Linked DNA regions of Homo sapiens. The protein of the gene in region 1 interacts with the protein of each later gene in a biochemical or structural test. Each region holds a gene or a part of one and is shown in the gene's direction. Other genes may lie near its edges.

The links.
Region 2: the proteins of IFNAR1 (region 1) and STAT2 form a complex in vitro, tested with the Homo sapiens proteins (2 studies listed by BioGRID).
Region 3: of the proteins of IFNAR1 (region 1) and PRKD2, one has a biochemical effect on the other in vitro, tested with the Homo sapiens proteins (one study listed by BioGRID).

What each region holds. Positions count from the first base shown.
Region 1 is NC_000021.9:33,348,040-33,356,827, forward strand, and holds part of IFNAR1 (interferon alpha/beta receptor 1 isoform 2 precursor), read left to right. Parts: intron 1-1,051; coding exon 1,052-1,251; intron 1,252-1,349; coding exon 1,350-1,504; intron 1,505-4,718; coding exon 4,719-4,869; intron 4,870-5,598; coding exon 5,599-5,744; intron 5,745-7,276; coding exon 7,277-7,510; 3' UTR 7,511-8,788. UniProt on the Homo sapiens protein: Together with IFNAR2, forms the heterodimeric receptor for type I interferons (including interferons alpha, beta, epsilon, omega and kappa).
Region 2 is NC_000012.12:56,356,549-56,365,645, reverse strand, and holds the start of STAT2 (signal transducer and activator of transcription 2), read left to right. Parts: upstream 1-5,538; 5' UTR 5,539-5,588; intron 5,589-9,067; 5' UTR 9,068-9,074; coding exon 9,075-9,097. Other genes in the region: APOF (apolipoprotein F preproprotein), read left to right, coding at 2,901-2,916, 3,457-4,421. UniProt on the Homo sapiens protein: Signal transducer and activator of transcription that mediates signaling by type I interferons (IFN-alpha and IFN-beta).
Region 3 is NC_000019.10:46,673,816-46,680,902, reverse strand, and holds the end of PRKD2 (serine/threonine-protein kinase D2), read left to right. Parts: intron 1-2,239; coding exon 2,240-2,507; intron 2,508-3,446; exon of another isoform or gene 3,447-3,763; intron 3,764-5,784; coding exon 5,785-5,870; intron 5,871-6,167; coding exon 6,168-6,380; 3' UTR 6,381-6,587; downstream 6,588-7,087.

The sequences.
Region 1 (8,788 bases):
ACTAAAGAGAGATAAGGAAACCAGTCAGGAGGCTATTAGAGTTCTGGGCTTGAACTGAGATGCTTTTAGCTGTTGGTTTCTGGGCAAGTTACTTAACCTCTTTAGTCTCGTACTTATACTTGCTCTTATAACCCCGCAGTGTGTCTCTATTTTAGCACTTAATCAGTGTCCATTGGTATGCTGGCGCATGTTTAGCAGCTGGCTTTCCAGAAAGAAAAAGTCCTATTTTGTAGTGTTTGCTGATTTTTATGATATAAATATTCCCACCATGGCCACTTTCAAGCCACCAGCCTGATGTCCCTGAATATGGAGTTGGGAACATATGCACAGTAGCACACCACTATCATATAGCTACAATAGATAAAGATAGCCCCAAGAGCTTAGAAAATAAAATGTAGTAAAATAATTAGGACAAGATGAATTTATTTATTACCTCTGTCTTTAAAACAATTTTTTATTTGCAAATTTATATAACTTAATTTTTAGTAATGGTTTTTCTTTAAAAACCAGTTTGTATTTTAGGAGGCCGAGGTAGGTGGATCACCTGAGGTCAGGAGTTCAAGACCAGCCTGGCCAACATGACGAAACCCCATCTCTACTAAAAATACAAAAATTAGGCAGGCCTGGTGGCGTGCACCTGTAATCCCAGCTACTCAGGGGGACAGAGGCAGGAGAATTGCTTGAACCCAGGAGGCAGAGGTTGCAGTGAGCCAAGATCCTACCACTCCACTCCAGCCTGGGTGACAGAGCGAGACTCGGTCTCAAAAAAAAAGCCAAAAAAAATAAACCAGCTTGCAGCATTCCTGGAAATTCTAACTAACAGATGTTCTTGCATATTGATATGAGCCACCTCCAGCAGAGCACAACATGACCACAGTCTGGAACAGTCTTTGGTTTTCTTTTATGTTAGATGCATATCTCTTCCATTGTTTGTGAGTTTCCTGAGTGTGGATACTATTTATTTCTGTAACCTTAGCCCCTAACATAGTGTCTGGCAATTGTAAATACTTAATAAATATCTAATGAATTTAAAAAATATTTGTCTTAAAAGCGCCTTTTTAAAAAGGAATCCTGGAAACCATTTGTATAAATGGAAACAAATACCTGACTGTGAAAATGTCAAAACTACCCAGTGTGTCTTTCCTCAAAACGTTTTCCAAAAAGGAATTTACCTTCTCCGCGTACAAGCATCTGATGGAAATAACACATCTTTTTGGTCTGAAGAGATAAAGTTTGATACTGAAATACAAGGTAAGGCAGTAGTTTTTACTGGAGATTGTAATTCTCTGGTGCAAGTTTTTAAAATTGTTTTTCTAATTGAACATTATTTCTTTACAAATTTTTTCTAGCTTTCCTACTTCCTCCAGTCTTTAACATTAGATCCCTTAGTGATTCATTCCATATCTATATCGGTGCTCCAAAACAGTCTGGAAACACGCCTGTGATCCAGGATTATCCACTGATTTATGAAATTATTTTTTGGGAAAACACTTCAAATGCTGAGGTAAAAAGACTGTATAGTATAATTTTGTAACTTAGAGTTATAATTATGATTTGGGTAAATAAAGCTTGAATGTAAAATTTGGGGGAAATTTTTAAACTTTATGTGGGCTGGATGCAGTGGCCTGTAATCCCAGCACTTCAGGAGGCCAAGGCGAGAGGATCACTTGAGCCTAAGGGTTTGAGACCAGCCTGGGCAACATAGGGAGACCCTGTCTCAATAAAAATTTTAAAAAATTAGCCTGGTGTGGTGGCGTGCACCTATATTCCCAGCTACTTGGGGTGGGAGGGTCACTTGAACCTGGGAGGTCAAGGCTGCAGTGAGCCATGATCGTGCCACTGCACTCCAGCCTGGGTGACAGAGTGACTGACAGCTTGTCTTTAAAAAAAAAAAATGTGATTAACTCAGATATTAACAAAATGAAGATTATGAGCATTTTTCATGTTTTGCACTGTAGAGTTATGGGTGAGCTGCATCTGGGCCCCAGTTTGCTTTTAAAATACAGATTCCTGAGCCTATTGTTACTGAATCATTATCTCTGGGGATGGAACTCAGGAATTTGCATTTTTAACATGATTCCCATGTATTCATCTAAACCTGGGATTCTCAGCACTATTGACGTTTGGGCTGGATAGTTCCTTGGGAGGGGGCTGTCCAGTGCAGTGCAGGATGCTTGGCAACATTCTGGTTTCTGCCTACTAGATGCCAGTAGTGTTCCTTCCTAGTTGTGACAACCAAAAACATCTTCAGATATTGTCAAATGTCCCCTGGTGGCTCCTCCAAGGGGACAAAAATTGGTTCTTATGGGACAAAAGAATTTATGTAGTACAGTTGTTTGTTTTCCTCCAAAACCATTGGAAAGCATTCTTCCAAAGTTCAGCTTTGCCCAACAAAATCTTATTCCTTAGTATTTAATTTTATGATGGGGGAAGGATTAGGAAAAAATTGCCCAAAAAGTTGTTTAGTTGGGGAGGTAATGAAAAAAGGGTTGACAAACACTGGTCTAAACCCTAAAATTCAGATACCACTGACAAAGATAATATATACCGTCAGATAATATACGTGTTTCCCAGATCACTTCCCCCTCGTGGACTTGTAGTCAAGAATCGACCTTTAAAACTCCTGTCCAGTCAGGCTGGTAAATTCTTTAACTTCACCTCATTTTCTATTGGAAATCTAAGCAAATTCCATTGATTTGGCTGCTTCCCTTTTTAATTGTCTGACAACCCTGTAACCATAGCTTAATGTAGCCCATTGAGAATTATGGTCGGTTTTCAGATGTCTGTAGATCAGACAAACCTAAATTTCTATCTCACTGCTAAACTGTGTAACCTTACGTACGCAGGGTGCTTTACCTCTTGGAGACTTTGCTTCCTCTTCTCTGAAGTGGTGGTAATCATAACAACTAAATTTTTCAAAAGGATGTTTATAAGGTTTAAAAGGAAGTAACAAATATGAAAATACCTAGCACATTGCTGGACAAGTAGTAGAGATTCAATAAATTGTAGTTGCCATCTTAACCTATACTGGATAATATATCAATAATTGTTACTATAGAAACTCTTATTGAATACTTATATGTAAGGTACTATGCTAAGTATTGTACATGAATTGTCTCAGTCATTCTTCAAAACAACCCTGCCGGATTATGTGATTGGTTACATTGCTGTTTGGCAAATACTTGGGACGGTGACTTCTTCCCTGCACCACCAGACCGTAGATGCTGGAGCCCAAGTAGATGTGCTGAGAACAGAGGCCTTAAGTGTGCTTGCAGGGTTTGGCTTGGCTCTTGCACTGCTCCTATTTGCCAGGAATAAAATGTATTCCACATAGTCTCTGGTCCAAGGAGGATTAGAGGCTGCTGGAGCTGACCTAAACCCCATGCACAGCCTCCGTGGGAGCTGCCCAGCCAGTCTGTAGACTTGTGAGTGAGAAACTACATAATCGTTTTGTGAGCCACTGAACGTTAAGGCAGTTTTGTTATCTATATTTTTTTATTTTATTTTATTTTATTTTTTTTTTTTTTGAGACAGGTTCTCATTCTTTTTCCCAGGCTGGAGTGCACTCATGTGATGTCAGCTCACTGCAGCCTCGACTTCCTGGGCTTAAGTGATCCTCCCACCTCAGCTTCCCAAGTAGCTGGGACTACAGGCACATGCCACCATGCCTAGCTAATTTTTTGTATTTTTGCTAAAGATGGAGTTTCACCACGTTGCCCAGGCTTTTTTGGTGGTGGTGGTGGTGGTTGTTTTGGAAATAGGGATTTCCTCAGCCTCCCAAGTAACAGAGACTACAGGCTCACACCACCATGCCTGGCCAATTTTTTTGAAATTTCTTGTACAGACAGAGTCTAGCTATGTTGCCCAGGCTCGTCTTGAACTCCTGGGCTCCAGTGATCCTCCTGCTTGGCCTCCCAAAGTGCTGGGATTACAGGTGTGACCCACCGGCTTGTTAGACATTATTCTGGCGATAGCTGACTGATACAGATAGCAGCAATAACTGTCCCGATTTTATAGATCAGGGAATCAGGTAGAGAGAAATTAAATAATGCTTGCAAGACCACACAGCTGTAAGTGATACTCTTAATAAGGCAGTTTGAGGCCAAAACCCCTACTCTTAACCATTCTGTCACTAATCAGAGGTAATACAATGGCAATTACCCCAGACTTGGCATGTACTTGTAAATCAATTAGAATTCTCTTAGGAATAGATCATATGCTTTTTTGGCAGCAGCATTTTTAACTTTCTGATTTGGTTATAGTGGTGTATCTAAAACAAATTTATATTTCTCACACATATACTCTGTAATCCCAGCACTTTGGGAGGCCAAGGTGGGTGGATCACTTGAGGCCAGGAGTTCAAGACCAGCCTGAACAACATGGTGAAACCCCATCTCTACCAAAAAGAAAAAAAAATTAGGCGTGGTGGCATCTGCATCTGTAATCCCAACTACTCAGGAGGGTGAGGCAGGAGAATCGCTTGAACCCAGGAGGCAGAGATTGCAGTGAGCCCAGATTGCACCACTGCACTCTAGCCTGGGTGACAGAGCGAGACTGTCTCACAAAAAAAACAAAACAAAACAAAACAAAACAAAAAATACATACCAACTACGTGGGAGAGGCCAATGTTAGACTGAACATAAAAAATTGAGAAAGCACATATTCCCTGATTTCTTGAGGTGACTAAATTTTATCAGTGATTTAATTATATTTTCTAGAGAAAAATTATCGAGAAAAAAACTGATGTTACAGTTCCTAATTTGAAACCACTGACTGTATATTGTGTGAAAGCCAGAGCACACACCATGGATGAAAAGCTGAATAAAAGCAGTGTTTTTAGTGACGCTGTATGTGAGAAAACAAAACCAGGTCAGAATCTTTTATTGTCTTTTTTAAAAATGTAGCTAGACATAATAAAAGTAATTCTATACTGTACATTGAAAATTGTAAAACATTTTCTCTTTACTGCAAAAAATATATAGAAAGAATGTTTTCTTCATGAACTACATGAATCAAAAGTAGACTTTTTAGAAAATATTTGTAACGCTTAACTCTCAAGTCGGTGTTGTTGGATGCTTTATATTTCATCCAGTATCCCTATAATTAATTTCCTTAATGTATTTCTCTTTAACATTTAATAAAACTATTTTAAATTTTTAGAATATAATCCTTAACATAATTATCATGTAGAAATCACTTAGTTCAATTGTGAGTTTTTTAATGTGGGAATTGGTTTAGTCTCATTTTCTATTTTACAGTTTCTAGTGTTGACCGGTAGAGGCTTAGTCACAGAATATCTATTAAATTTTGCTAGTTGTATGGTGTAAAAGTGCTGAAGGATACTTGCATGTTTGGCCTGTATGTCAATATTGTATTTCTCCCTGAGGATCTCTTACTTCAGTTCCCACGCCAATCTTTAAATGTAAATGTCATTGCCTATGGTTGCTGTGGACTCAGTGCTGCCAGAAATATTTTTAAGAGTATTATTTAATAGATTTTATATTTCCTTTCATATGGCTAGTCTTTCACACAGCTGTCAGCACTGTTAAGGCATTTGTATGTCAAAATATATGCTAAATATCACGTATATCTTTTTAGGAAATACCTCTAAAATTTGGCTTATAGTTGGAATTTGTATTGCATTATTTGCTCTCCCGTTTGTCATTTATGCTGCGAAAGTCTTCTTGAGATGCATCAATTATGTCTTCTTTCCATCACTTAAACCTTCTTCCAGTATAGATGAGGTATGTTACTTTTTTTATTTTTTTGTCAACAGCTAGGTAATGAACAGAAAATGTGTTTGATTTCAACAGGATATATGTAGGTTTTCTTGATATCCAGAAAATAATAGAGACTGATTTGGGTATCTTCTTCAAAGCTTTAGTCAATTAACTTTAAAAACAGTAATTTCATGTAATAACATAGCATGAGATAGTAATGATTGTCCTTAATTTCATATTTTTCTGGCAATTCCTAGATTCACTGTGGCATTTGTTTTACCGTTTAAAGCCTGTGATTCTTGGCCAAGCGTGGTGGCTCACGCCTGTAATCCCAGCACTTTGGGAGGCTGAGGCGGGTGGGTCACTTGAGGTCAGGAGTTCGAGACCAGCCTGGTCAACATGGAGAAACCCTGTCTCTACTAAAAATATAAAATTAGCCGGGCGTGGTGGCACATGCCTGTAATCCCAGCTACTCGGGAGGCTGAGGCAGGGGGATCGCTTGAACCTGGGAGGTGGAGGTTGCAGTGAGCCGAGGTCATGCCACTGCACTCCAGCCTGGGTGACAGAGCAAGACTCTGTCTCTAAATAAGTAAATAAAGTCTGTAATGTGATTCTTCTCAGTACAGACAGTCCCAAACTTACGCTGTTTCAATTTGTGATGCGTTTGTCAGAACGTAATTCCATTGTAAGTTAGGAGCATCTGTATATATCCAGAAGACTAAAATATTCTATCAGCGTAGAAAGTATATTCTATGGATGAAATCATACAAAATGAAATAACTAAAAACATGAGACTTTTTTTATGACACACATCACAGTTTTTTGTTTGGCACTTCTATGAAGCTAGCATATTAAATGAAAGCACTGAATGGTGAAGGCCTAAACATAGAATCTGTTCCTGGGAAACCATGTGCTCATCTAGGGTGGGTTTTGTGAATTTGAGCAAGTCACTAAGGGCAGGTAAGCAAGTACCCTTGGCTGTAAACCACCCCATAGAGGTGTTAGGAGCAAAGGAGTTAAACCATAAGAACCTTACCACTCTAAAAATGCTCCGTAAATATTAACAATTTTACTATTATACCCCTGAGTTTTTAAATGTCATTCCTGTGTACTGTAATATTCATAGCTATTATTTAAAATAGACTTAAAAACTAGTTACAATAGCCAATAATTTCTCAATTGTGCTTCTTCTGGATATATATGTGTTGGATACAAACATTTTTATTATTTCAAAAAAAAAAAGTCATGATCCCAGAGTCCGCCCGCTCCTGTCCTTTCCCGTGTTCTTCCCCGCCTACCCCGATGGCACAGTGTACCTTTCTTAGGTACTCTTCAAAGACTCACCACAGAAGGTACTAAGATATGAGTGACCTCACTAATGATGCTTTTAAACATTATAAGGCAATTAGTATGTTCTTAGGCGACTTTTTAATATGCATGCCAGAAGATAGGTTTTCTCAGTAATGGATGTAAGAAACTAAAGCTATTACAACTAGAAAAGGAATTTTTATTATTTTAAATAATTGATTTCTACTCTTTCCCTTTTTTTAAATTAGTATTTCTCTGAACAGCCATTGAAGAATCTTCTGCTTTCAACTTCTGAGGAACAAATCGAAAAATGTTTCATAATTGAAAATATAAGCACAATTGCTACAGTAGAAGAAACTAATCAAACTGATGAAGATCATAAAAAATACAGTTCCCAAACTAGCCAAGATTCAGGAAATTATTCTAATGAAGATGAAAGCGAAAGTAAAACAAGTGAAGAACTACAGCAGGACTTTGTATGACCAGAAATGAACTGTGTCAAGTATAAGGTTTTTCAGCAGGAGTTACACTGGGAGCCTGAGGTCCTCACCTTCCTCTCAGTAACTACAGAGAGGACGTTTCCCTGTTTAGGGAAAGAAAAAACATCTTCAGATCATAGGTCCTAAAAATACGGGCAAGCTCTTAACTATTTAAAAATGAAATTACAGGCCCGGGCACGGTGGCTCACACCTGTAATCCCAGCACTTTGGGAGGCTGAGGCAGGCAGATCATGAGGTCAAGAGATCGAGACCAGCCTGGCCAACGTGGTGAAACCCCATCTCTACTAAAAATACAAAAATTAGCCGGGTGTGGTGGCGCGCGCCTGTTGTCTTAGCTACTCAGGAGGCTGAGGCAGGAGAATCGCTTGAAAACAGGAGGTGGAGGTTGCAGTGAGCCGAGATCACGCCACTGCACTCCAGCCTGGTGACAGCGTGAGACTCTTTAAAAAAAGAAATTAAAAGAGTTGAGACAAACGTTTCCTACATTCTTTTCCATGTGTAAAATCATGAAAAAGCCTGTCACCGGACTTGCATTGGATGAGATGAGTCAGACCAAAACAGTGGCCACCCGTCTTCCTCCTGTGAGCCTAAGTGCAGCCGTGCTAGCTGCGCACCGTGGCTAAGGATGACGTCTGTGTTCCTGTCCATCACTGATGCTGCTGGCTACTGCATGTGCCACACCTGTCTGTTCGCCATTCCTAACATTCTGTTTCATTCTTCCTCGGGAGATATTTCAAACATTTGGTCTTTTCTTTTAACACTGAGGGTAGGCCCTTAGGAAATTTATTTAGGAAAGTCTGAACACGTTATCACTTGGTTTTCTGGAAAGTAGCTTACCCTAGAAAACAGCTGCAAATGCCAGAAAGATGATCCCTAAAAATGTTGAGGGACTTCTGTTCATTCATCCCGAGAACATTGGCTTCCACATCACAGTATCTACCCTTACATGGTTTAGGATTAAAGCCAGGCAATCTTTTACTATGCATTAAGACCTCTGATTCAAAACTTATTAGAACAGTAGCTTCTGCTGGAATTTGCAATCACTGAAGTCATAGAAAATAGGTAACTATCTAATTAGAGAAATAATTGTTGTATTTTAAGATCTGAGAGTGTGTACAAGTTTTAGTATACATGCCATGCCAGAAGATAGTGTATGCAAGAAGTCTTGGGACCAGAAAATGGCAATGATAGGAGACTGACATAGAAGAAGAATGCTTCCCTAGGAAAAAGGTCGCTGGCTTTGGTGCAAGAGGAAGAAGA
Region 2 (9,097 bases), on another chromosome or scaffold:
CAAAAATACAAAATTAGCCGGGAATGGTGGCACACGCCTGTAATCCCAGCTACTTGGGAGGCTGAGGCAGGAGAATCACTTGAACCTGGGAGGCGGAGGTTGCAGTGAGCTGAGATCGCGCCATTGCACTCCAGCCTGGTCAACAAGAGCGAAACTCCGTCTCAGAAAAAAAAAGAAAAGAAAAATGGTTTAGGGGTCCCAGAGATCACCAGCTATTCTGCCTTACCCTTTCTCCCCTCAAGAAGATACGGAGGACCTTTTCCTCAGCTCAAATATAGGTTTAGGGTAAAACCTTAGGATAGAAAAGATATGTCACTGGGTGCCGTGGCTCACGCCTGTAATCCCAACACTTTGGGAGGCCGAGGCAGGCAGATCATTCGAGGTCAGGAGTTTGAGACCAGCCTGACTGACATGGTGAAACTCCATCTCTACTAAAAATACAAAAACATTAGCTAGGCGTGGTGGCGCACACCTGTAGTCCCAGCTACTCGGGAGGCTGAGGCAAGAGAATCTCTTGAACCTGGGAAGTGGAGGTTGCAGTGAGCCAAGATCACGCCATTGCATTCCAGCCTGAGCAACAGAGTGAGACTGTCTCCAGAAAACAAAACAAAACAAAAATTTGCCAGGCATGGTGGTGCGTGCCTGTAATCCCAACTACTAGGGAGACTGAGACACAAGAATCGCTTGAACCCGGGATGTGGAGGTTGCAGTGAGCTGTGATCGTGCCACTGCACTCTACCCTGGGCAACAGAGTGAGACTGTGTCTCCAGAAAAAAAAAGGAAAAGAAAAAGAAAAAGAAAAAAAAAAAAAGATATGGGACAGGACTGCAGGGCCTAAAAGGGGAAAGGTCAGTTTGTCAGTATGGGTCAAAGGTGAGAAGGACAAAGTCTGGGCTGGGAAGAGATGCATAAATATTTGCAAATGTTTTGTCCTTCACTGTTTTGGAAGCCATCAACTTTCTGGTTTCCTTGTGATTCTGGGAAAGGGCAGATTAAAAACAGCAACAACAACAATAATAGTAATTCAGGTCATGAAGATACCAAAGCAAATGAGATGTTTGGACTGTTTTTTTCCTCTGACTTGTTTCTCCTCAAAATAGGAGGATCACCCACATCCTTTAAGAGTGAAGATGAGGTGTGCTCAGGGCAACCGAAGTTTCCAAGAGCTAAGACACTTTCTAGCTCTGGCCAGTCTTGGTGTCTCTTTGTCCTGAGCCTTTCTCCACTTCCCAACCTGAGCACTGCTTCCTTCCAGCAGGGCTGCTCTGCTGTCCCCCCATGGTCCAAGCTGTGCTGCTGCTTTGCTGTGTCCTGCTGTCCCTGGTGTCTGCCTTTCCAAGAAATGCTCAGAATGAGACTCTGACCCTCCAGCCATCTTTAACAGAGACTGGGCATCCATCAAACATGCTCTCCATTATTTGGAGAACATGGAGAGCCAGATTCCTCTCCCAGATCCCAGGATCTGCCAAGATCTCTTACACACAGCCCCCTCCCTAGCCCCTCTGCCTGAGTACCTGTCCAACTTAGCTCTGAGGGTGCCCTTGGAGGAGGTGGGCTGCCCAACTGAGGCCCATGTTCTGCAGTTTCAGATGCGAGGAAAGGATACCACTGAAACCCTCATCCGTGAGAGTCAAAAAGTTCAATGGGGAGGAAGGCAATACCAACATCATTGTGACGAATCTAGTAGTCCCTTAGGGAAGTGTGAATAAACCCAGCACCCAGCTGCCCATCCTGGGAAATGTATGGATGGTGGCAAATATACCCACTGGGGTAGCTGGCCTACCAGGTAGCTCAGATGGTGATTGAGTTTGCTGAGAAACCATCTCCCATGATGCTTGGTGTCACAGTTCAAAGTTTTGGGTGTCCACATCACCAAGAACTGCAGGTATGAGTCTTGGGAGCATATTGAAGAATTAGGCAAAAAGTTGAAGAAGCTCTCAAGATCATTTAAATTGTCCATGGACAGTGACAATATAATCTATCAAATGTTCCACAGCTATTCTGAAGTGCTTTGTGAGGAAAATGATCCAGGAATTGATCCCGGCTCATTTCAGCTATTCAATATCACATAAGTAATGAGTCTCCTTTCCCAGGACTGTATTCAAGGATGGCACACAGTAAGTAGTTAGAAATGTTGGAGACCACTTAGGACAGATGAATGCTCTTTATTTCACCTCTTCCCTTAAACACATATGTGACCAGTGTTAGCCTTGCCCCTCTCCACTTAGTAGGTGTCAGCTCCCCTCCTTTTTTTTTTTTAAGACGGAGTCTCACTCTGTCACCCAGGCTGGAGTGCAGTAGTGCGATCTTGGCTTACTGCAACCTCCACCTCCCGGGTTCAAGCAATTCTCCTGCCTCAGCCTCCTGAGTAGCTGGGACTACAGACGCCCACCACCACGCCTGGGTGTATATATATATATATATATATATATATTTTTTTTTTTTTAGTAGAGACAGGGTTTCACCATATTGGCCAGGCTGGTCTCGAACTCCTGACCTTGTGATCCGCCCGCCTTGGCCTCCCAAAGTGCTGGGATTACAGGCGTGAGCCACCATGCTCAGCCGCTAATTTAATTTTTAAAATGAAGAGAAATGAGAGTATCACAAACATCTCATCTTTCCTAATTCTGAATTTCCCTGGCTCCTATCATGAGCTTAGAGTGGGAATGTGGCAGGGACATACAGGAAATGCCAAAGAACAGGACTGTAGGCATAGAGGTTGAGTGTGTGACAAGGGGCACAAGGTTTGAGCAGCCAGTATAAATGGGCAAATATTTGCAGAGATTACATCCTTCACTGATCATAGGGGAAAGCAAATATCTCCTTTCCTCATGGGACACAGAACTAGGCAGAACAGGATCAGGAAGCGATCAAACCTACCAAGGCAGTCTCACTTCTCAATGACTGGACTGTGTGGTAATTTGGGGTCCCTATATATGGGTGGAAATAAAACAGAAGTCCCTGGTGACCTGTAAATGGGGGAGACCAAGTGGGAGCAACTGGGGTGCATTTCCTATTTCCTAGGCCTTTACCTAAAAAGAACAGAAGCTTGGGGCCAGGCGCGGTGGCTCACATCTGGAAGCCTATCACTTTGGGAGGCGGAGGTGGAAGGATCACTTGAGCCCAAAGTTCAGAACTAGGCTGGGCCAGATGGCAAAACCACGTCTCTACAAAAAATTTAAAAATTAGCTGGGCATGGTGTCACGCACCTGTAGTCCCAGCTGCTTGGGAGGCTGAGGCAGGAGGATCCCTCGAGCCCAGGAATTCAAGGCAGCAGTGATTTGTGATCCCATCACTGCACTCTAGTCTGGGCAACAGAGCAAGACCCTGTCTCTAAAAAGAAAGTACAAAAGCTTGGAAGCAGGTGATGTATGAGGTGTCCCCCTAACTGAGTCTTGGGCTCACCATCGCCCTTAGGGAAATGGTTTGTATGTTTCGGATTTCTCCCCTTTCTAGGGTACTCTGCTCCAGACATGCGTGGCCTCAGACTCATCATGATACCAGTTGAGCTGCTACTTTGCTACCTCCTGCTGCACCCTGTGGATGCCACTTCATATGGAAAGCAGACAAATGTCTTGATGCACTTTCCCTTGTCCTTGGAATCCCAGACACCCTCCTCAGACCCCTTGTCCTGCCAATTTCTGCACCCAAAGTCACTGCCTGGTTTCAGCCACATGGCCCCTCTACCCAAGTTCTTGGTAAGCCTGGCTCTAAGGAATGCCCTGGAGGAAGCTGGTTGTCAGGCTGATGTTTGGGCTCTACAGCTACAGCTCTACCGCCAGGGTGGTGTGAATGCTACACAGGTCCTCATCCAGCATCTTCGAGGGCTCCAGAAAGGCAGAAGCACAGAGAGGAACGTGTCAGTGGAAGCCCTGGCCTCTGCTCTGCAGCTGTTAGCCAGGGAGCAGCAAAGCACAGGAAGGGTCGGGCGCTCCCTCCCGACAGAGGACTGTGAGAATGAGAAGGAGCAAGCTGTGCACAATGTAGTCCAGCTGCTGCCAGGAGTGGGAACCTTCTACAACCTGGGCACAGCTTTGTATTATGCTACTCAAAACTGCCTGGGCAAGGCCAGGGAACGAGGCCGAGATGGGGCCATAGATCTGGGATATGACCTTCTGATGACCATGGCTGGGATGTCAGGGGGGCCTATGGGTCTAGCGATCAGTGCTGCACTTAAACCTGCATTAAGGTCTGGGGTTCAGCAGTTGATCCAGTATTACCAAGATCAGAAAGACGCAAACATCTCTCAGCCGGAGACCACCAAGGAGGGTTTGAGGGCCATCTCAGATGTGAGTGACTTGGAAGAAACAACTACTCTGGCTTCTTTCATATCAGAAGTAGTAAGTTCAGCTCCCTACTGGGGGTGGGCCATAATCAAGAGCTATGACTTAGATCCTGGGGCTGGGAGTCTTGAGATATAAAAGAATGTGGTAACCACAGAATTAATAACTGTACTACCCTGACAAGCTATATACATGTCTTCAAAATTTTAATCTGATTTATCCAGGAGGAAGGCTGTACAGTAAAACGTAAGAACGTAAATGTTTGGGTGTTGAAGTCACAGGGTTTGGTTTCGAATCTAGGCTCCACTTGTTAGAGCCTCGGTGATCACTGAATAGTAACTTCTTTCTTGAACTAAGATCAGTTTTGAAGTTTCTAAAGGAGATAGAATGATTTTAACCTCAATGAGTTGCCCTGTAAATTTAAAATGATACAATGAATCTAAAATGCTTATCACAGTACTTTCAATAAATAGCTATTAGCCAGGTGCGGTGGCTCACGCCTGTAATCCCAGCACTGTGAGAGGCTGAGGCGGGATGATCACCTGAGGTCAGGAGTTCAAGATCAGCCTGGGCAACATGGCGAAACCCCGTCTCTACAATAAATACAAAAAATTATCCTGGCGGAGTTATGCACGCTTGTAGTCCCAACTACCTGGGAGGCTGAGGCGGGAGAATCACCTGAGCCTGGGAGGTCGAGGCTGCAGCGAGCCGAGATCGCGCCGCTGCATTCCAGCCTGGGTGACAGAGCGAGACCATGTCTCAAAAAATAAAAATAAAAAAAAATTGTTTTCATTACCTCAGCCCTCCTCTTCCTATCCCAAGGCGTCGAAATTCCGGTCCCACCCCTTCCCATGGAGCCCTTGGCGTCTCCAGGCTCCTCAAGCTAGTTTCGGTTCCGGGGCTCACGCGCGGGTTCTCGAAAATCAGCTGTTTCAGTCTTGGGCTAGTCCACTAATTGGACTCCTCCCCTCGTAGAAAGTGCCTACTTGAACTTCTCCACCAATCGCTGAAGCTGCAGGTGTGGTTTCGGCTCAGCTTGTCCCGCCCTGCGGAGGGGCGGAGTTGCGGCGGCGCCAGTGAGCTCGCAGTCTGGGAAGGGCTTGACTGAATGGCAGCCAGTGTCGGGGTGGCGGCTGGGAATGGGGGCCGCTCCGGACTTCCGCTGCCAACTACAAGGGGGCGGGTCCGAGGGGGGTTAGCCGAAGTTGTAGGCGGGGCGCGAGGTTCTAGTACCCGAGCTCATACTAGGGACGGGAAGTCGCGACCAGAGCCATTGGAGGGCGCGGGGACTGCAACCCTAATCAGGTACGGGCCCTGAGAGGGTGTGCTGGGGTAGGGGTGGGGGTGAGAGTGAGAGTTCCTCCGAGGGAAGGGCGACTGGCCCCAGGGGTTACCCCCTGGAGAGGGTAGCTTCGGTCCCCAGATTGAAATAGGAGCTGTCGCCTGCTCGGTCCTCGATCTTCTTCTGTCCAGCCTATCTCCCTAACCCTAATGCCCCTCTCCCAAAACTGCCCTGCAGCTTCCGAGACCCGGAATCTGGCATTGTTATGTTGGTTCGGTATCTGACGTTTTTCCCTCTGCTCTGCATTATTTTTTATCTTCACCAAAAAACGATGTTCAAAGATAGATAAATCTAAAAACAAAGATAGATAAATCTATTATCCTTGTTTTGTTAAAAAGTATAAGCTACTGAAAGATGAAACGATTGCCTAAGGTCACACACAAAATTCAGTTCATTTCAGAAAAGCTTCTTGAGTGCAAAATATGTGCCTAAGAATGAGAGATAATGAGAAAAAATTGTTTCAGCCCTTAACCTCAGTGTTTGCAATCCATTTGGGGAGACCAGGTTTTTTGTTTTGTTTTCATATTTGAATCTTTGCTGACTTGCTCCTTTAATATCAGACACTTAAATCCTCAAGAATTGGGACCTCATCATTAATTTTTTTTTGGAGATGGAATCTCACTATGTTGCTCAAGCTTGGTCTCAAACTCCTGGGCTCAAGCCATCCTCTCGTCTTGTGGGCCTCACAAAGTGCTGGGATTACAGGCATGAGCCATCATGCCTGGCCACCTGATCATTTTTTTAACTTTTTTTTGGTATCATAAAAGCAATACAGATACATAGTTTTAAAAATCAAGCACTACTAAAAGAGTTAAAATGAAAATAGCCCCTGCCCAATCCCTCCCTTCCCTTGTTCCTGCTGGAGGTAGAAAGGCAGCTGATGTTATTCATGTTAGTAGAAGACTCTCCCACCCCAAGCATTTCTCTTTATTTTGTAATAAAATCATGTGACCTTTTTAGACCACAAATATGCATGAATTCTGTTCTGTTAGGCTCAGGCTGCAACAAGCATAAGTTTCAGTTTCCTAAATAGACACCAGCTGGCAGTGAGCAGGGAACAGTGGGGAGAAAGATGCATGGGACAGCCTGCTTGGTGACAGGCAAAAACCAATTTGTTGTTCTTTTGAGACAGAGTCTTGCTTTGTCACCCAGGCTGGAGTGTAGTGATGTGATCTCTGCTTACTGCAACCCCTGCCTCCTGGGTACAAGCCATTCTCCTGCCTCAGCCTCTTGAGTAGCTGGGATTACAGGCAACAATTTTAAGTGAAGTTTCAGGATCTCACAAAGTTGATAACCTATAATCATATTCAAGATTCACAGGTCATAAACGTGTCATATTCTTGGGATTGAGCCACCCATTGCACAGCATTTAGATGTCTTCTAGAATGGAGCTCCTCCTTCCTATATGGAGGGCAGTTTATATGGTGTACTTACCTGACCACCAAAAAGATTTGGCTCCTAAAAAAGCTTCAGGTGGCCGGGCATGGTGGTTCACCCCTGTAATCCCAGCACTTTGGGAGGCCAAGGTGGGCAGATCACCTGAGGTCAGAAGTTCCAGACCAGCCTGGACAATATGGTGAAACCCCATCTCTACTAAAAATACAAAAATTAGCTGGGCATGGTAGTGGGCGCCTGTAATCCCAGCTAGTCGGGAGGCTGAGGCAGGAGAATCCCTTCAACTCGGGAGGCAGAGTTTGCAGTGAGCCGAGATCGTGTCACTGCACTCCAGCCTGGGTGACAGAGCAAGACTCCATCTCAAAAAAAGAAAAAAAAAAAAAGAAAAAAAAAAGCTTCAGAGCCAGCAGGGATCATGCTGTAATAAATACTTAACATCAACACTGATCTTTAAATGCTTTAGCACAATCAAATATAAATAACAAACACACACATAAATGCAAAATAAATGAATTAGGGAGATAGATGAAATAAGATTGTGGAAATAGTAATGTTTGTTAAAGCTGGATGGTGATCCTTGTACTATTCACTCTACTCTAGTGTGTATTTGAAAATTACCATTAGGCTGGTTATGGTGGCTCATGCCTGTTAATCCCGGCATTTTGGAAGGCTGAGGCAGGCGGATTACTTGAGCTCAGGAGTTTGAGATCTGCCTGGGCAACATGGCAAAATCCCATCTCTACAAAAAATTAGCTGGCATGATGGCACACTCCTGTAGTCCCAGCTCCTTGAGGGGCTGAGGCAGAGAATGGCTTGAACCTGAGAGGTCAAAGCTGCAGTGAGCCAAGATCATGCCACTGCACTCCAGCCTGGGTGACCAAGTGAGACCCTGTCTCAAAAAAAAAAAAAAAAAAAGAAAGAAAATTCCCATTAAAGCACAAAGGCCCACTTATTGAAGCTATTAAAATACAGGTTGGGGCCGGCTGGGCACAGCGGCTCACGCCTGTAATCCCAGCACTTTGGAAGGCCGAGGTAGGCAGATCACGAGTTCAGGAGATCGAGACCATCCTGGCTAACACGGTGAAACCCCATCTCTACTAAAAATACAAAAAAAAAAATCAGCCGGGCATGGTGGCGGGAGCCTATAGTCCCAGCTACTCGGGAGGCTGAGGCAGGAGAATGGCATGAGCCCGGGAGGCGGAGCTTGCAGTGAGCCAAAATCACACCACTGCACTCCAGCCTGGGCAACAGATCGAGACTCCATCTGAAGAAAAAAAAAATACAGGTTGGGACCACAGTGGCTCATGCCTGTAATCCTAGTACTTTGGGAGTCCGAAGTAGGTGGATCACCTGAGGTCAGGAGTTTGAGACCAGCCTGGCCAACATGGCAAAACCCCATCTCTACTAAAAAATATACAAAAATTAGCTGGGCGTGGTGGTGGGTGCCTGTAATCCCAGCTACTCAGGAGGCTGAGGCAGAAGAATCACTTGAACCAGGGGGATGGTGGTTGCAATGAGCCAAGATCATGCCACTTCACTCCGGCCCAGGCAAAAGAGTGAGAGTCCATCTTAAAAAAAAAAAAAAAAAAAAAAAAAAAATACAGATTAGGCATTCCTAATCTGAAAAATTTGGCTCCAAAATGCTCCAGTGAGCATTTCCTTTGAGTGTCATGTGGGTGCTCAAAAAGTTAGATTTTGGACCATTTCAGATTTCAGAGTTTTGGATTAGGGATGCTCGACTGGTAAGTAATGCAGATATTCCAAAATCTGGACAAATCTGAAATCCAAAATGCTTGGAATAGCAGATACTCAACTGGTAGCACTCCCTGGAAGAATATGCACCAAACTGATAGCAGTGGTTACTTCTGGAGAGGAGGGGAAAGAACCAAGATTAGCAGTAGGATCAACATATATTTTAATGTTTTCTGTATTTTTATTACTTGTATAATTTAAACATTTTAAATTAGTAATAATGAACAATCATGAAACTATGGATGATTTAGTCCAGCAAAATATCCAATTGGGAACCCTCATCCTTCTGACGCAGAGCCCAAATGGCGCAGTGGGAAATGCTGCA
Region 3 (7,087 bases), on another chromosome or scaffold:
TTATTCAACATGTAGTCAACATAAAAATTATTAAGGCCAGGGGAGGTGGCTCATGCCTATAATCCCCGCACTTTGGGAGGCCAAGATGGGAAGACGGCTTGAGACCAGGAGTTCAAGTCTGAAGTGAGCTATGATTGTGCCACTGCACTCCAGCTGGGGTGACAGAGCAAGACCCTGTCTCTTAAAAAAGAAACAAAACTCAATGAAACATTCTGCTTGTTTTTCATACTATGTCTTCAAAATCTGGTGTGTATAACAGTTGGGGAAATAGATTGACATGCCCAAGTTGTTCCAAACATATTTAAAAGTTTTCTGGTTGAGCGCAGCGGCTCATGCCTATAATCCCAGCACTTTGGGAGGCTGAGGCGGGCAGATCACTTGAGGTCTGGAGTTGGATACCAGTCTGGCTAACATGGCGAAACCCCGTCTCTACTAAAAATACAAAAATTAGCTGGGCATGGTGGCGGGAACCTGTAATCCCAGGTTCTCAGGAGGCTGAAGCAGGAGAATTGCTTGAACCCAGGAGGGTGGAGGTTGCGGTGAGCCGAGATCACACCACTGCACTCCAGCCTGGACGACAGACCAAGACTCGTCTCAAAAAAATAATAATAAAATAAAAATTTTAAAAAAGATCCATAGGAAAGTATAGATCTTGGAAAAGAGAAAGAGCTATAAGATCTGTAGAAAGGGCAGAGTACCTCAGGAAAGGGTGGCTGTCACATTGAGATTCAGGTCAGGGGTTGAGGCGTGGCTGGTTTCAAAGGTGACAGAGGCTTCAGGCTTCAAGGATTTGGGGCTCTATCCTGCAAGCAACAGTGAGCCAAGGAAGGGTTTTGAACAGGGAAAGGACAGTACATGAACAGAGCTGGGAACCAAGGCTGAGAGGTAGGCAGCAGAGCAAGACCTTGAACCCAGGTCTTGCTGGCTCCAAAGCCTGTCCATGACCTTAGACTGCAGCCATTAACAATGAGGGTATGGGGCCAGGTGTGGTGTCTCATGCCTGTAATCCCAGCACTTTGGGAGGCTGAGGCAGGAGGAACACCTGAGGTCAGGAGTTTGGGACCAGCCTGGCTGATGTGGTGAAATGTCGTCTCTACTAAAAATACAAAAATTAGCCAGGCATGGTGGCGGGTCCCTGTGATCCCAGCTATTCGGGAGGCTGAGGCAGGAGAATTGCTTGAACCTGGGAGGCAGAGGTTGCAGTGAGCCAAGATCACGCTACTGCACTCCAGCCTGGGCGACAGAGCGAGACTCCGTCTCAAAAAAAATAAAACAATGAAGGAAAGGTAGGCATACACCATACTGTCTGCCAGCTACCGCAGTCAGCACCCACTCCTACCTAATCCCCAGGAAAGCCTGAGAGGAGGCTGCTATCAACAACCCCCCAATACAGATGACAAAATCAAGGCCTGGAGAAATTAGGTCCTTGACCTGAGATCATCGAGGGTCATTCTGTGCTAGACACTGCTCCTAACACGTTGCATACATTTCTCTTTCAGTCTAAACAAGCACCCTTTAAGGTAGGGACTGTTAAGATCTCCATTATGTTTCATGTTTTTTTTGTTTGTTTTTTGAGACGGAGTCTCGCTGTGTCACCCAGGCTGGAATGCAGTGGTGCGATCTCGGCTCACTGCAACCTCTGCCTCCCAGGTTCAGGCGATTCTCCTGCCTCAGCCTCCTGAGTAGCTGGGACCGCAGGCGTGTGCTAATTTTTGTATTTTTAGTAGAGATGGGGTTTCATCGTGTTGGCCAGGCTGGTCTCGAACTCCTGACCTCAAATGATCCATCTTCCTTGGCCTCCCAAAGTGCTGAGATTGCAGGCATGAGCCACCACGCCCCAATCATGTATATTTTGAGGCTATTAAAAAAAATCTGCATTATTCAAAAGAGGAAACAGCGACCCATTGGAGGTGGCAGAGGTATAGCAGCAGCTAGCATTTATTGTGCACCAACTGAATGCCAAATATTGTCCTGTGGGCTTTGGATGGTTTAATTCACTAACCATCATGGCAGTCCTCTGAGATAGGTGCTCTTCTGCTCTTCTTCCTATAGATGGGGAAACTGAGGCACAGAGGGGGGAAGTCACCTGCCCAGGGTTGCTCAGCTAGTGAGCCAAGGAGCCTGGATTCAAACCAGCATCCAGCTTTCTCTGGAATACCATGGAGGGTGGTGTGGTGGGGATGCTGGGGTGGGTGCGGCTCCATCACCTGGTGGAGCCTCCATCCCTTGCCCTCTGCAGGTGAAGCTGTGTGACTTTGGCTTTGCTCGCATCATCGGCGAGAAGTCGTTCCGCCGCTCAGTGGTGGGCACGCCGGCCTACCTGGCACCCGAGGTGCTGCTCAACCAGGGCTACAACCGCTCGCTGGACATGTGGTCAGTGGGCGTGATCATGTACGTCAGCCTCAGCGGCACCTTCCCTTTCAACGAGGATGAGGACATCAATGACCAGATCCAGAACGCCGCCTTCATGTACCCGGCCAGCCCCTGGAGCCACATCTCAGCTGGAGGTGCCTGGGGCCCGCCTACCCCATGGGCGGGTGGGTTGTGGGGTGGGGCTGGAGAAGTGGGCGGAGCCATGAGAGGGGGGTGGACCCGGAAACAGCCTGGCACCTTGGGGGTGGAGCCCAGTGCTGGGGCGGGCCTACTGGAGGGATGTGGCTACAGGAGGAGCCGTCCTGTAAAAGATGGGCTGGGACTCAGGCCTAGACTAGGTTACTTGGGCTGGAAACCAAGTGCCCCAGAAGCGCTGAGGACACTTGGAACCTTAGGGGGGCTGAGTGAGACTTGGCTTGTCTAGGGTGGGACCAGGAAAGGGACTGGACTTGAGGGTACCAAAGGGCTGCGGTGACCAGGAGAAGGGGCTGAGCCTCCCAAGGCATTGGCTGGGACCTGGAGCCTTTGGGTTTACGACCCCAAAAGGGTCAGCCTTGCAAAAAGGAGGCACCGGTGGGTAGGGTTGAGAAACAAGGGCATGGCTACTTTGCTGTGTACTGGGGCCGTGACTTGGGTGAAGATGGGCCTGAAGCCTGGGGTCGGTTCAGTGACCAAGGGAGCCAGTCTAGGGACGTGGCCGTGGAGGGTTTCCGAAGAGGTCCAGGAACAGGGCTGACCCTGAGTCCTGGAAGCTGGGAGTGGATGGGAGTGGGGAGGAGAAGGGAGCCAGGACTGAGGCAGACATTGCACTCTGCATTCTGGGGCTTTGGTGTTGTGGCTGGGCCTGATGAAGTGGCACCGGGCCTGGTGACTTGAACCTACTTGGGAATGGGTCTGTAACTTTCCCTGCTTGGAAAAGTTAAGTCCTAAGGCCTGGAGCTTTGAGGCTGGGTGTGGGATGGCATGTTTAGAGGGCCAGAGGCAGGGCTAAGATACTGGGGTGTGTCAGAAGCCAGGAGAACAAGGGACCTGTGTTGGAGCCAGGGAGCTCAGGAAGACAGATGGAGTATGGGAAGGGGGGGGATCATTCATTCATTTATTTATAACCATTTATTCAACAAGTACATTCATGTATTTGTAACCATTGATTCAACATGTTGAGTGCCCACGATGTGCCAGGCATTGACTGTTCCAGCTCTGGGAATACTGTGATGACTTGGACAGAAGGGGTCAGGTGCAGGGTAGCTCATTGAGTGGTCCGCGAAGGGTGGAAAGGGGAAGGGTCCTCTCTGGAGGGTGCGGCTTCATGGAGCAGGTGGAGCAGGGTGACACGGAGGTTGCTCGGTGCAGGACAAGACAAGGTCTTGGTGGTGGTCTAAGAGCATGGGCCCTAAGCAGTGAGAATGTGGATTGACTTGAGTCCTGGAGTAATATTGGGGGTGCTCAACACTGGCTTTTTTTTTTTTTTTGAGGTGGGGTCTCGCTCTTTCACCCACGCTGGAGTGCAGTGGCGTGATCTCGGCTCACTGCAACCTCCACCTCTTGGGTTCAAGGGATTCTCCTGCCTCAGCCTCCCGAGTAACTGGGATTACAGGCACACAGCACCATGCCTGGCTCATGTTTTATATTTTTAGTAGAGACAGGGTTTCGCCATGTTAGCCAGGCTGGTCTTGAACTCCTGACCTCAAGTTATTTGCCCGCTTCAGCCTCCCAAAGTGCTGGGATTGCAGGCATAAGCCATCACACCCCGCCAGCATTGTCTTTTGAGACCCACTCAGAAGTCCCTCAGTAAAAGTGCATCGAGTGTGCACAAGTGAATTTAAGTGTGGTTGCACCTGTGTGAGGATCACAGAATCCTGTGGGTGTTGACGGGAGCAGGGTGCCTGTGTGCACCAGGCCTCTCCTCGGATGGGTTCATACAGTGAAGCCTTGTCCTTCATGGCTTCCCATCAAGGAGAGAGCCTCGGATGAGTGCTGGCTTGTCTTGAAGCTTGACATTCGCTAGTCCTCTTTTTCACAATGAACAGGCCTATCTCTGAGCCTTCTGCAGGCAATGGTGACTAACTACCATCTGATGACATTTTGTTTTGTTTTGTTTTGTTTTGAGACGGAGTTTCGCTTTTGTCACCCGGGCTGGAGTGCAGTGGCACGATCTTGGCTCACTGCAACCTCTGCCTCCTGAGTTCAAGCGATTCTGCCTCAGCCTCCTGAGTAGCTGGGACTACAGGCATGCGCTACCATGCCCAGCTAATTTTTTGTATTTTTAGTAGAGACGGGGTTTCCGTGTTGGCCAGGCTTGTCTCGAACTCCTGACCTCGGGTGATCCACCCGCCTCGGCCTCCCAAAGTGTTGGGATTACAGGCATGAGCCACCGCGCCCAGCCTGATGACATAGATGCTCCCTGATTTGCACTGGGGTTAGATAAACCTGATAAACCCATTGCCCATTGTAAATTGAAAATATCATAAGTTGGTCAGGCGCAGTGGCTGAAGCCCATAATCCCAGCACCTTGGGAGGCCAAGGTAGGCAGATTGCTTGAGCCCAGGAGTTCAAGACCAGCCTGGGCAATGTATCTCTACAAAAAATACAAAAATTAGCCGGCCATAGTGACAGGTGCTTGTAGTCCCAGCTGGCTGCTCAGGAGGCTAAGGCAGGAGAATCAATTAAGCTGGGGAGGTGGAGGCTTCAGTGAGCATTGATCACGCCACTGCACTTCAGCTTGGGTAACAATGAGACCCTGTCTCAAAAAAAAAAAAGGAAGTATTGTAGGTTGAAAATCCATTTAGGCCGGGCGCAGTGGCTCATGCCTGTAATCCCAACAATTTGGGAGGCCAAGGCAGGCGGATTGCTTGAGGTCAGGAGTTAGAGACCAGCCTGGCCAATATGGTGAAACCCCATCTCTACTAAAAATACAAAAAGTTAGCAGGACATGGTGACACACACCTGTATTCCTAGCTACTTGGGAGGCTGAGGCAGGAGAATCACATGAACCCGGGAGGCGGAGGTTGCAGTGAGCCAAGATCGTGCCATTGCACTCCAGCCTGGGCGACAGAGCGAGACTCTGTCTCAATAAATAAATAAGTAAAAATAAAAAGAATAGTACAGGTGTAATTGTATGTACCTGTATATGACAAAAAGAAAAAAAAAGGTGACATAGGGGAATGGGGAAATTGAAGTAGAGAACAGGTGAAGAGAGGGAGCTGGTGTGAACATGCATGGGCAGGAGGAGACAAATTTGTAATGTAATGAGGAAATGGGTGGGTGAGTGATTGGCACAGGTGAGGCTTCTGAGCCACCTGAGCTGGTGCAGAAGGAAGGTGTTGATGGCAGGCAGGTAGGCTAGGGGGTGCCTATTGGAGGAGGAGTGACCCTTGACCTGTAGGGCTTGACCTGTTTCTCTTTCCTGTGCAGCCATTGACCTCATCAACAACCTGCTGCAGGTGAAGATGCGCAAACGCTACAGCGTGGACAAATCTCTCAGCCACCCCTGGTTACAGGTGATGCAGGGGGCAGGGCTGGCCCATTGGCTGGATTGGAGGAAGGGGTGGGAGTAGATCGCTTATTGGCTAGGCAGGTTGTGAAGGATGTAGGTTTCCTTGGGTCTGGAATGTGGCTAGGCCTCCCATTGGCTGGGTGCAGGAAGAGGGGGTGGAGCTAAATGTCTACTGGCTGGGTGGGTTGCAGAGGGTATGGCTTCACCTTCATTGGTACCCAGCTCTCAGTGGCAAACCAGAGGATATCCAGGCACTGCTCCAATGCAGACCCCAAGCTAACCCCAGTTCTCTCGGGCCCAGGAGTACCAGACGTGGCTGGACCTCCGAGAGCTGGAGGGGAAGATGGGAGAGCGATACATCACGCATGAGAGTGACGACGCGCGCTGGGAGCAGTTTGCAGCAGAGCATCCGCTGCCTGGGTCTGGGCTGCCCACGGACAGGGATCTCGGTGGGGCCTGTCCACCACAGGACCACGACATGCAGGGGCTGGCGGAGCGCATCAGTGTTCTCTGAGGTCCTGTGCCCTCGTCCAGCTGCTGCCCTCCACAGCGGTTCTTCACAGGATCCCAGCAATGAACTGTTCTAGGGAAAGTGGCTTCCTGCCCAAACTGGATGGGACACGTGGGGAGTGGGGTGGGGGGAGCTATTTCCAAGGCCCCTCCCTGTTTCCCCAGCAATTAAAACGGACTCATCTCTGGCCCCATGGCCTTGATCTCAGCACACGGCACTCTCGAATCATTACTCTGTTGTACCAACATGGAGTTCATCTGGAAGGAGGACTGCCTGAAAAGAGGAAGGATGGAAGGGGTGGGGAGAGAGGACTGATGGGAGAGGAGTCTTGGAAGGAGGACGAGCTGGGGTAGAAAATATACAGGAAGAGTGCCAGGAGAGAAGATGAGAAGGGAGAGGGAGGAGTAATGGAGGAGGAGTTGGAAACTGGGGAGAGATGGAAGGAATGTGACTGGAGGGTAGAGAACTTGGAGAAAAAGTAATCTCATGGTTTGTGATGACTGATTTTTTATTTGGTGGTGGTGTTACTACTAATCACAACTATTAATTCAGGCTGGGTGTGGTGGCTCATGCCTATAATCCCAGCAATTTGGGAGGCCGAGGCAGGCAGATCCCTTAGATCTCAGGAGTTTGAGAGCAGCCTGGCCAACGTGGTGAAACTCCCTTTCTACAAAAAGTTCAAAAATTAGCCAAGTGTGGTGGCTTGCACC